Regions from separate parts of the Homo sapiens genome. Here region 1 is linked to region 2. Evidence: fine-mapped expression QTL. A gene starts in region 2. The other region holds a variant in brackets. All regions are shown on one strand. Distances are from middle to middle. Region 1 overlaps MAP3K10 (mitogen-activated protein kinase kinase kinase 10). Region 2 holds the start of TTC9B (tetratricopeptide repeat domain 9B).

Region 1 (5,366 bases), 21 kb after region 2:
TCACCTCAGCACCTCCTTCTTCCTCCAAACTTTTCGTGACTGGTTCCTTTTTGCCACTTGGAACTCAGATGAAGTATCATTTCTCAGATTGCTCAGAGAAGCGTTCCCAAAAGTAGTCTTCCAGCCCTTAAAGTGCCTTCCTCTCAGCCTCCTCGCACTTTGTACTAACACTTTTTTCTGGTGTACTTGTCTTTAAAAATTATAATTTTCTTAAAAAACAGCTTTATAAAAAAGAGCTTCTTGTATGTTGACTGACTTACTATTCCTGAGGGCAGGGATTGCATGTATTTTTCTTCTCTGCTATATCCCTAGAACCCGGTGCAGTTAGATGAAGGAATGAATGAGTGAATTAATCATTTTCCTGTCTGACAGATGGGACAGTGCATGGGCTAGTGTCTGAGGGGGCTTTCAGTGCTAGCATCCATGTGCTGTCTCTATGCTTTTTTAAATTTTTTCTTTTTTTGGAGACAGAGTCTCGCTCTGTCACCCAGGCTGGAGTGCAGTGGCCAATCCCAGCCCACTGCAATCTCTGCCTCCCGGCCTCAAGTGATTCTCCTGCCTCAGTCTCCCGAGTAGCTGGGACAACAGGCATCTGCCACCACGCCCAGGTAATTTTAGTATTTTTAGTAGAGATGGGGTTTCACCATGTTGGTCAGGCTGGTCTCAAACTCCTGACCTCAAGTGATCCGCCCACCTCGGCCTCCCAAAGTGCTGGGATTACAGGTGTGCGCCCCCGCGCCCGGCCTTGTCTCTAGATCCTATGAGCTTTTTATTCTAATCCAGTGTGCCCCCTAGTTGCCATTTGTGCTAGCTGAACAGGTAACTGGCACTTGTCTGGTGGCCTGACCTTGCCAGCAGGTCCCTTTGTCAGACTGAGATCCTGGCTTCAGCAGGAGACCCTCCCTCCCACTCTGCCCTCACCCCTTCCTCCCTCCCTTACTCCCCAGAGGCCATCCCGGCCGCGCCTTTCAGCACCTCCAGACATCACTGCTTTTGGAGAAGAGGGAGAGACGGATAACCTCCGGCGCCATCCAGGCGTAGGTCCCCGCAGCGCTCATCTTGGTGGTCTTGTGCCACTCGCGGGCGAGGCCGAAGTCCGTGATCTTGAGCACCGTGTCTGCGAGGTTGTGGTTCTCGATGGCCTCCAGGATCAGGACTGTGGGGTGGGAAGAAAGGTGGGTCACCCCAGACCTGCCACGCCGCAGACCCAAGTGTTCTGGCCCGCTGCCTCAGCTAGAAACACGTCTTTCCTCTCACTGCCTCAGGCTGCCCCGCTCTGTGGCAGGTCCTTTCCTGGCCTGGAACATCCATGAGCCCCTCCGCCCAGGTCTAATCCCTGTCCCAGGCTCCCATGAGGGAGTAGGGAGCTCCTCCTGTGTCCTCTGCCCTCCTGATTCTGTCCTGGGCTTTGGGGAGCTCCATGAATGGTCAAGAACCAACAGCCAAGGCTGAAGCGGGTCACTTGAGCCCAGGAGTTCGAGACCAGCCTGTGCAACATGGCAAGACCTCATCTCTACAAAAACTTTTTAAAAATACCTGGGTGTGGTGGTGCATGCCTACAGTCCCAGCCACTTGGGAGGCTAAGTTGGGAGGATCACTTGAGGCTGGGAGGTTGAGGCTGCAGTGAGCCATGGTCTTGCCATTGCACTCCAGCCTGGGCAATAGAGTGAGACCTCGTCTCAAAAAAAAGAAACAACAGCCAAGGCCTTAGTCCTCCAGGCCTTGAGTTCCCAGCTACCCTGGAAGCAGGAAGTGCAAACCTGGGGCAGAAGGGAGGAACGTGGCTTCCCCCTCGTGTCTATCACCCCCGTGGCACACTGCAGTCAGGGTCCCAATTCTACCCCTTCCTGTGTCCACACTCTGCCATGAGACTTTGCCATTCTTTCTGCTAAAGAGGCAGAGTATGGCCAGGCACGGTGGCTCACACCTGTAATCCCAGCACTTTGGGAGGCTAAGGCAGGCGGATCACTTGAGGTCAGGAGTTCGAGACCAGCCTGGCCAACATGGTGAAACCTCATCTCTACTAAAAATACAAAAATTAGCCGAGCATCATGGTGCTCACCTGTAATCCCAGCTACTTGGAAGGCTGAGGCATGAGAATCACTTGAACCTGGGAGGTGGAGGTGGCAGTGAGCTGAGATTGCGCCATTGAACTCCAGCCTGGGTGACAGAGCGAGACTCTGTCTCCGAGAAAACAAAAACAAAAACAAAAACAAAGGCAGAGTGCACCCTGACTCTGGCTCAGCCGTATGACTTGCTTTGGCTAAGAATGACAGGGTGCCAATTCCAAGCCCAGGCCTTGCATGTCTGCTGGCCCTCTTGCACTTGTGTCATCACCATGACAACATGCCTCAGCTAGCCTGCTTGTCCAAGAAGATGAGAGCTACTTGGAGCAAAGCCTCTCCAGCTGAGCCCAGCCTCCATCAGTTTACCCTCCAGCTGGTCCGCAAATGCAGGAGCAGTAATACACAATGGCTGTTTTAAGATGCCGAGTTTTGGGGGTAGCTTATTACACAGCATGATCGTGACAAAATCTGACTGAAGTATTCCCTAAACATACTGGATGGTTCTAGCTTACTTTCTACCCGGGTTGTCACTAACAGCCATGAGGATCATGGCTAGTGTTTGTACTGTGCTAAGCTCTCTATAGGAATTGACTCATGAATGACCCCCACCCCGAGCCCTTTTTTATTTTTTTAAAGAGACAGGGTTGGCCAGGAGCAGTGGCTCATGCCTGTAATCCCAGCACTTTGGGAGGCCAAGGTAGGTGGATCACTTGAGGTCAGGAGACCGAGACCAGCCTGGCCAACATAGTGAAACCCTGTCTCTACTAAAAATACAAAAATTAGCTGGGTGTGGTGGCGGGTGCCTGGAGTCCCAGCTATTTGAGAGGCTTTGG[T/C]GAGAGGATCACTTGAACCCAGGAGGCAGAGGTTGCAGTGAGCCGAGATCGTGCCACTGCACTTCAACCTGGATGACAGAGCGAGACTCCATCTCAATGAAATAAATAAATAAATAAAGAGACAGGGTCTTTTTCTGTCACTCAGACTGGAGTGCAGTGGTGTGATTATGGCTTGCTGTAGCTTCAAACTTCTGGGCTTAAACAATCCTCCAGCCTTGGACTCCCAAATTGCTGGGACTACAAGAGTAAACCACTGCACCCAGCCACAACCCATTTTTCTTGACTAGCTAACAGAGGCTCAGAAGTCACTTGGCCAAGAGGTCACATGGTTAGAAAATGGCAGGACAAAGGCTTGAATTAGTTTTGTCATCAGAGCTCAATCTCTTAACTGCTGAGATATTTTACTACCTTCTATCACATAGAGGCTCCAAAGTATACAGTGTGCTGCCTGGGTTTGAGTCTCAGCCCTGCTTCTTCCTAGGTGCATAACCCTGTACAGTTTACTTTAATCTTCACACCGAGACTTCTCCTCTATGAAATGGGGCTCGTAACAGAATTTACCTTCTAGCGTTATAGTAAAAATTTATTGCCTGAAGCAATAGGGCCTTTAAAAGTGTTAGCTGTTATTATTAGTGTGTGATATTGCCATAATTGTTCCGAATTTCTCCACTTTTCTTTTTGCCATTCCTGGCTACTTCCCAGTCATAATAATAATAGTAAGGTAGTTCTACTATCATGCCCATTTGGCAGATGAAGGAACTGAAGGTGGCAGAGATTGGCAAATCACCCAGGGTCACACAATTGATAATCCTGCCCATCCTTTAAAGCCCAGCTTCAGATTGGACGCGGTGGCTCATGCCTGTAATCCTAGCACTTTGGGAGGCTAAGGCAGGCGGATCACCTGAGGTCAGGAGTTCAAGACCAGCCTGGCCAACATGGCAAGACCACCGTCTCTACTAGAAATACAAAAATTAGCCAGGCTTGGTGGCGCACGCCTGTAGCCCTGCCTACTTGGAAAGTTGAGGTGGAAGGATCACTTGAACCCGGGAGGCGGAAGGTTCAGTGAGCTGTGATCACACTACTGCACTCCAGCCTGGGTCACAGAGTGAGATGACTCTGTCTCAAAAAAAAAAAAAAAAAAAAAAAAAAAAAAAAAAAAAGGCCGGGCGGGCTTCAGTGTTACCTCCTCCTGGAAGCCCCCACTGTAAATTCCTAGTCTGTAACTCCACCTCTGCAGAAGTTTTCCCTTCTTAGGTCCCCACCTCTCCTGTTTGTATCGAAACCCTGTGACAGAGGGAACATCTCATGGTTTTATGCTTTATTTCTGTATTTCCCAGGCTGGGCCTAAGTCAGTCCCCCTTCAAAATCTTTATGTAATCATGTCACTCCCTGCTTCAAATCCTCTAATGGCTTCCACTACATCAAATAAAATACCCCAAGTCCTCACCATGGCCCCCAAGGTCCTATGTGATCTGGCTCCTGCCAGCCTTTCTGATCCTACTTCCTCCCATCTCTGCCTCAATGCCTGCTGTTCTGGTCTTGCTGTTCTCCAGTGAGACACACTCACTCCCACCTCAGGGCATGTGCCCCACTGTTCCCCTTCCCCAGATCTTTGTAAAGCTGGGTCCCCTTTGTTCAGGTCTCTGCTCAAATGTTGCCTTCCCTGACCACCCGATCTAAATAAAGAGAACCCTCTGCTCCAGCCTTTGCCTTAGTCCACTGAGAGCCCCTGATACTCTCTGAAATTTTGGTATCCATCTATCCATCATTTATTCCTGTTCACCGGAATATAAATTCCATAGCTGGGGGAGGGAGAAATCTTGCCTTGTTCACTTCTGTAATCCCAGAGCTGAGGCAGTGCCTAGTAAGAGTAGGCACTTAAGAATTACTGGTGGAATGAACCAATGAATGAATGATGGCAGATGAGGCGCTCCTTAGGGTAGGATGAGTGGGGAAGCAGTGCTGTGGAGGCGCTGTGTCCTCTGTTTCTGGCACAGAGCAGACCCATCACCCCGGGAGGAAGCCCTGGCCATAAGAGGCCCACTGACCCTTTGACCAGATAGCACTGGCTACAAAAAACCTGGGGGTGTGGGGCGTGCTGTCAATCAGCAGAGGTGAGGAAGGGCTGAGGAGTCCCAGCCTTCAACAGGAGCATGCTGGGTGGCCCTGCCTCCATTTACCCAACATTTCAGAGGTGCTGGGGCATAAGCATCAGTTCCCCAGACACAGCACCAGCTCTGGCACATCGTGGTCACATGTTAGCTTTTTTTTTTTGCGATGGAATCTTGCTCTGTCACCCAGGCTGGAGTGCAGTGGTGCAATCTCGGCTCACTGCAACCTCCACCTCCTGGTTTCAAGCGATTCTTCTGCCTCAGCCTGAGTAGCTGGGATTACAGATGCATGCCACCATGCCCAGCTAATTTTTGTATTTTTAGTAGAGAAGGGGTTTCACCATATTGGTCAGGCT
Region 2 (5,366 bases):
ACAGGTGTGAGTCACTGCGCCCAGCCAGATCTCTGTGTTTTTCATTACAAAACAGACACACCGGAGGTAGGGAAAGGTGTGTGCACTGCTCAAGAACTCAAATTCATGAGTTTTACACTCCTAACTGAGCCTGGGTTTGGAGATGCAGAGAGGAAAATGTTTGCACCCCTGAGGTGTTCAAGGCTGGACCCCAGGGATAAGGGAGAAACTCACTCAGCAAAAGCGTTTTACAGCAAAGTACAATAAGAGATAGAGGCAGATGCTCTGGTTGAGATGGAAGGTGCTGAGTTCTGGTTTCTGTCTGTCACATGTGACCTGCCATGGGACCTCCAGCTAGAGGATGTGCTGTGGGGGTGGAGTTGGGGAGAGTGGGGAGGCCTGGGGCTGAGACCCAAGCTAGAGTCTCAGAGGAGGGGGAGGAGTAGTAATGCATAATGCCATTCACTCACACACTCATTCATTCAACAACTATATATGGATGCTGACTCAGAGCCAGGCACTCATGATCACATGACTCAGAGTCTAATGGACGATAAGAAACACCAGTTGTTAATTGCCCATTAATGTATGAAGCCCTGTGCTAAGTGCCTTACCTGCATAAGATAATTCAGTCTCTGCAACCGCTCTGAGGTTAACTTGCCTTCTATCCTCATGTCGCACAGACGAAGCCGAAGGAGGAGGATCGAGGAACTTGGCCCAGGTCCCACAGCTAAGGAGGCGGCAAAGGAGGACTGAAGGGCAGTTGACTCATTCATCCTCGATTTTTTTCTTGAAAGCCTCCTGCATGCTTCCTTTCCTGGGGACTTGTTTGCCCTCTCACTTGTTTTCCCCCATAGACAGCCGAGCTGGATGAGGGCAAGAAGGAGATCTCTCTTGTTTTTAGAGTTATTCCCTCCTCCAGGAAGACTTTATCACCACCTCAGCCCAGGGCAGGTACCTCCCACATCCCAGCCCCGACCCCTCTGCCTGTGCCTCTTCCACCTCGGCCCCGACCCCTCTGCCTGTGCTTCCCAGGCTAGCCTGCTCAGGGCTGTCACTGTCTGGTCACTGGTCTGTCTTCCCACTGAACTGGGGCCCAGTGAGAGTAGGGTCTGAAGCTCACGCAGTGTCTGCTATGTCCCAGCATCATCCAGCACAGAGCTGGGCACAGAAAGGATGTCAGTGAATATTTGTTTCATAAATTAACAGATGAATCCCAAAGGTGGTATTATTTTTAATTCCTTTCCTTTCCTTTTTTCTCTTTCCTCTTTCCCCTTTCCCCTTTCCTTTCCTTTCCTTTCCTTTCCTTTCCTTTCCTTTCCTTTCCTTTCCTTTCCTTTCCTTTCCTTTTTTGAGACGGCATCTCCCTCTGTCACCCAGGCTGGAGTGCAGTGGCACAATCTCGGCTCACTGCAACCTCTGCCTCCCAGGTTCAAGTGATTCTCCTGCCTCAGTCTCCCGAGTAGCTGGGACTACAGGTGCACGCCACCACACCAGGCTAATTTTTGTGTATATATACAAAAATTTTGTATATATTGTATATTAGTAGAGACGGAGTTTTGCCATATTGGCCAGGCTGGTCTCAAACTTCTGACCTCAAGCGATCCATCCACCTCGACCTCCCAAAGTGCTGGGATTACAGGCGTGAGCCACCTCGACTGGCCCTAAAGGTGATATTATTGTGCCATGTTACTGATGAGGATACAGAGTTCCAGGTAGTTTAAGCGAGCTGTCTAAGTCATACCACTAGTGAGAAAGTAAGCAGGGATTTGAATTTGGGAAGCTTGGGTCCAAATCCTGTGTTCTCATTCGATATGCCAAATGGCCAGTGGGCTGAGAGCCAGCTTTCCGTGAGGCTGATGTCTTCCTGCTCTTTCCCCCAGGCTCGTCCTTTCCTTCTAGAAATCTTCGGGAGCTTTGGGCACCGGGGAGGAGAGCAGGCAGGAGGTTGGGGAGGGTAAGGGGAATGGGAACAATTCGGGGGGCGGGCTGGAGAACTAGGACTTGGTTAATTTGAGAGTGAGCATGGGGGAAGTCTCGAGGGGTTTCCCTAGACCCATAGGGGGCAGCCGGAGTCGGCTGCCGGAGGTGAGGGGGCGGAGAAAGGGTGGGGACCAGCCCCGCGGGGGGCGATGCGGTAGCTGCAGCGGCGGCGGCAGGAGTTTCCCACAATGCAGCGCGGCGCGCTGTCCCCGGTGCTGATGCTCAGCGCTGCCCCGGAGCCTCCGCCGCGCCCGCCTCCCGCCCTCTCCCCACCGGGCTCGGGCCCAGGCTCGGGCTCCCGCCATGGCTCGGCTCGTCCCGGTCCTACCCCAGAGCCGTCGGGGAGCCTGGGCGCGGCGCTCGACAGCAGCCTGCGTGCCGCCGTGGCGTTCAAGGCAGAGGGCCAGCGCTGCTATCGAGAGAAGAAGTTCCGGGAGGCCATCGGCAAGTACCACCGAGCGCTGCTGCAGCTGAAGGCGGCGCAGGGGGCCCGCCCTAGCGGCCTGCCCGCCCCCGCCCCCGGGCCCACCAGCAGCCCCGGGCCGGCGCGCCTCAGCGAGGAGCAGCGGCGCCTGGTGGAGAGCACGGAGGTGGAGTGTTACGACTCCCTCACGGGTACGCCGTCGGGGGGTGGGGGGATGGGGCACGAGGGGAGGGGGCAATCGGGAGAGCTTGGCGACTTGGGGGCCAGGGGCCCTGGGGCTGAAGGGTCCAGGGCTGTGGGCTTCTGGGGGAGCCTTCAGAGCTTGATCAAGGAAAGGGATTAGGGGTAGGGGATGACAGGGGTCTGTGGCTGGAGGGAGCTGGGATGCAGGAAATGGTCTTTGGGTCGGGTATTCAGGGCCTCGCTTCCCCTGAGTCATTCTTTCCACCCCCTGGCCGCACGTGGACCCAAGGTGAGGAAGTCTGCCCTGAGCCAGGCTCTCGAGGTCCCGGCCCTCGCCCCCGCGCGGGGCCTTAGTGCTCTTGCCCACCGACAGCTCTGGGTGGATCGCCCAGTGGCGCCTGTCCGTGTTTTGGCGCCCCCTAGCAGCGGCGCAGTTGCGCCTGTTTCGATAGGCGAGCGGATTGGCGCCCCTGGTTGCCGGAGCAATCCCTTAGGCCTGGTTCCCTGCCGCCTGGAGCCTCGGCTCCTCGCAGTCAGGTGGGTTCTGGGGGTGCCAGCAGGCTCTGAGAGTGCCGGCCGCGGGGCCCTCGCAGCTTGCCTGCTGCAGTCGGAGCTGGTAAACTACGAGCGCGTGCGCGAGTACTGTCTCAAGGTACTGGAGAAGCAGCAGGGCAACTTCAAGGCCACCTACCGTGCCGGCATTGCCTTCTACCACCTGGGCGACTACGCACGCGCGCTGCGCTACCTGCAGGAGGCCCGCAGCCGGGAACCCACAGGTGAGTGGCGGGGCGGGGCAGAGGTGAGGGCTGGGCCCAGGGCGGGGAAAGGGGCTGCAGCGGAGGGAACAGGCAGGAAGATCAGGGCAGAATAGCAGAGCCCTCCTCCCGCGGAGCTGCTTCTAGGTAGGGCTGCGCCACCCACCTACTCCCTACACGCCCACTCATCCATTCATCCACCCCGCCCTTCACCCGCCATTCAAACATCCGTCCACCTATCGCTCCTCTGACATCTCCCCGGCCATTTCTCATCTACCGTCATTGCCACATCTGATATCTCCTATTCACCTGCTCAGTCACTTCCCTATCCACCCACTGTCATCTCCATTACCCCGTCCCACCCCTGCCTACCGCACACACTCATTCCTCCACTCACCCATTCACGCACACCTATTCATTCACTTCCTGCACCATCCACTCATCCACTCGGGTGGACGATGCCAGGAAATTGGGGTGTGTGTGTGTGTGCGTGCATGTGTGCACTTACACACATGAGTGCAGGAGGGCAGACACAACACTCAGTTTTGTATTAAGAGCCAATGAAGAAGGAAGAGGGATTACAACAGGTGCAGGGTTGTGGGAGCCGAGACGAGATTAGTTTTCCTGTTAAGTGGCTCGGAGAGAACAGACTTCTTGCAGATGTCGCTGGAGGATGAGAAGTGTGACGGGAGCCTCTGCGAAGAGGCATTCCTGGCAGAGGGTGCCGCAAATACAGGCGCACAGAGGTGTGCGATGGCTCCGCTGTGACTGGGGACTGCCGACTGTGACTGGGGCTTTGGGGAAGGGCTCTGGCTCTACTGGCTGTGTGAGCGAGCTGCTGGATACTTCGGAGAATGGGGTGTGAGCCAGGGAGGTGTGGAAGTCACCTGCTGCCCCGGGACACCCAGATGATGCCCTGCCCACCTCCCCTGCAGACACCAATGTGCTCCGCTACATCCAGCTGACTCAGCTGAAGATGAATCGTTGCAGCCTCCAGCGGGAAGACAGTGGGGCTGGGTCCCAGACTCGGGATGTAATTGGCTGAGGCCAATCCAGGGGGACCTCTCTATCCCTCGCCCTCCCACCTCACCATGTAACTTCCCCCGACTCATGTGTTTGTTGGTAAAACACTTGTCACTGGTGATCATAACTTGTGTGGTGTTCTTGGGGGGACCAGGGAGGGCCTCATCCCTTGGACCTTAGAAACCCAGAGAAGCCCAGGGAGGGTGTGTGGGGTCGGGGGGAATGTTCCACTGGGATGACCCAGCATCAGGGCCTGGGCCAGGGAAAGAAACAGTCTAGGCCAGGCGCAGTGGCTCACGCCTGTAATCCCAGCATTTTGGGAGGCCGAGATGGGTGGATCACTTGAGGTCAGGAGTTTGAGAGCAGCCTGGTCGACATGGTGAAACCCTGTCTCTACCAAAAATACAAAAATTATCTGGGTGTGGTGGCGGGAGCCTGTAGTCCCAGCTACTCATGAGGCTGAGGCAGAAGAATCACTTGAACCCAGGAGGCGGAGGTTGCAGTGAGCTGAGATGGTGCCACTGCACTCCAGCCTGGGCAACAGAGCAAGACTCTGTCTCCAAAAAAAAAAAAAAAAAAAAAAGGAAAAAGGAACACAATCAAGTGCGGTAGGGGGCAGGGGTTACCTTTAATGCTCCATTTTGTGCCAAATCCCCCATGATGCCCTGTCCCTGAGTATCCCTGCCCACCCTCCCCCCAGTGCAGGGTGGGCACAGGGCTCCACCCCCTGGGGTACAAAGGAATAAGTTAAGTGTCCCCCCCCTCCCTCCTTCCCCAATAAATAGAGTGAACATCCTGCCCAGGGCCTCCCCCACCTTGTGGCATGGCGGGCTGGGGCAGGGCCTGGGGCGCTACATTCATGGCTGCCCAGGCGGGCGGTGGTGGGCAGGCCTTAGTGGGAGCCGTGGGCCCCGCACAGGGGCACTGTGCTGTCTTGGTTCTGCCCCTCCATGTCCATGTCCAGCAGTGTGGGCTGCACGCTGGGGGGCCCAGGGCTCTCCGGAGTGTCTGGCCTGCTG

Evidence for each region. PIP is the estimated chance that this variant, and not a neighbour inherited with it, causes the effect. A credible set is the group of variants that fine-mapping cannot tell apart.
Region 1: its variant is the best candidate, but not a certain one, in a credible set for the expression of TTC9B in cerebellum (GTEx, PIP 0.81).

The regions. Positions count from the first base shown.
Region 1 is chr19:40,194,165-40,199,530 of GRCh38, reverse strand. MAP3K10 (mitogen-activated protein kinase kinase kinase 10) reads right to left here. Exons shown (of 10, transcript NM_002446.4): 2 at 976-1,156. Among named protein-coding and RNA genes, the nearest start is that of MAP3K10, 5.4 kb to the right of the region's middle. The variant T/C (reference allele first, on the strand shown) is at 2,900.
Region 2 is chr19:40,215,166-40,220,531 of GRCh38, reverse strand. TTC9B (tetratricopeptide repeat domain 9B) reads left to right here and starts at 2,148. Exons shown (of 3, transcript NM_152479.6): 1 at 2,148-2,577; 2 at 3,163-3,345; 3 at 4,260-4,474. The coding sequence starts at 2,151. The coding sequence ends at 4,369. It overlaps MAP3K10 (mitogen-activated protein kinase kinase kinase 10), which reads right to left. Exons shown (of 10, transcript NM_002446.4): 10 at 4,957-5,366. The coding sequence ends at 5,240. RefSeq lists enhancers at 1-1,111, 2,690-3,280.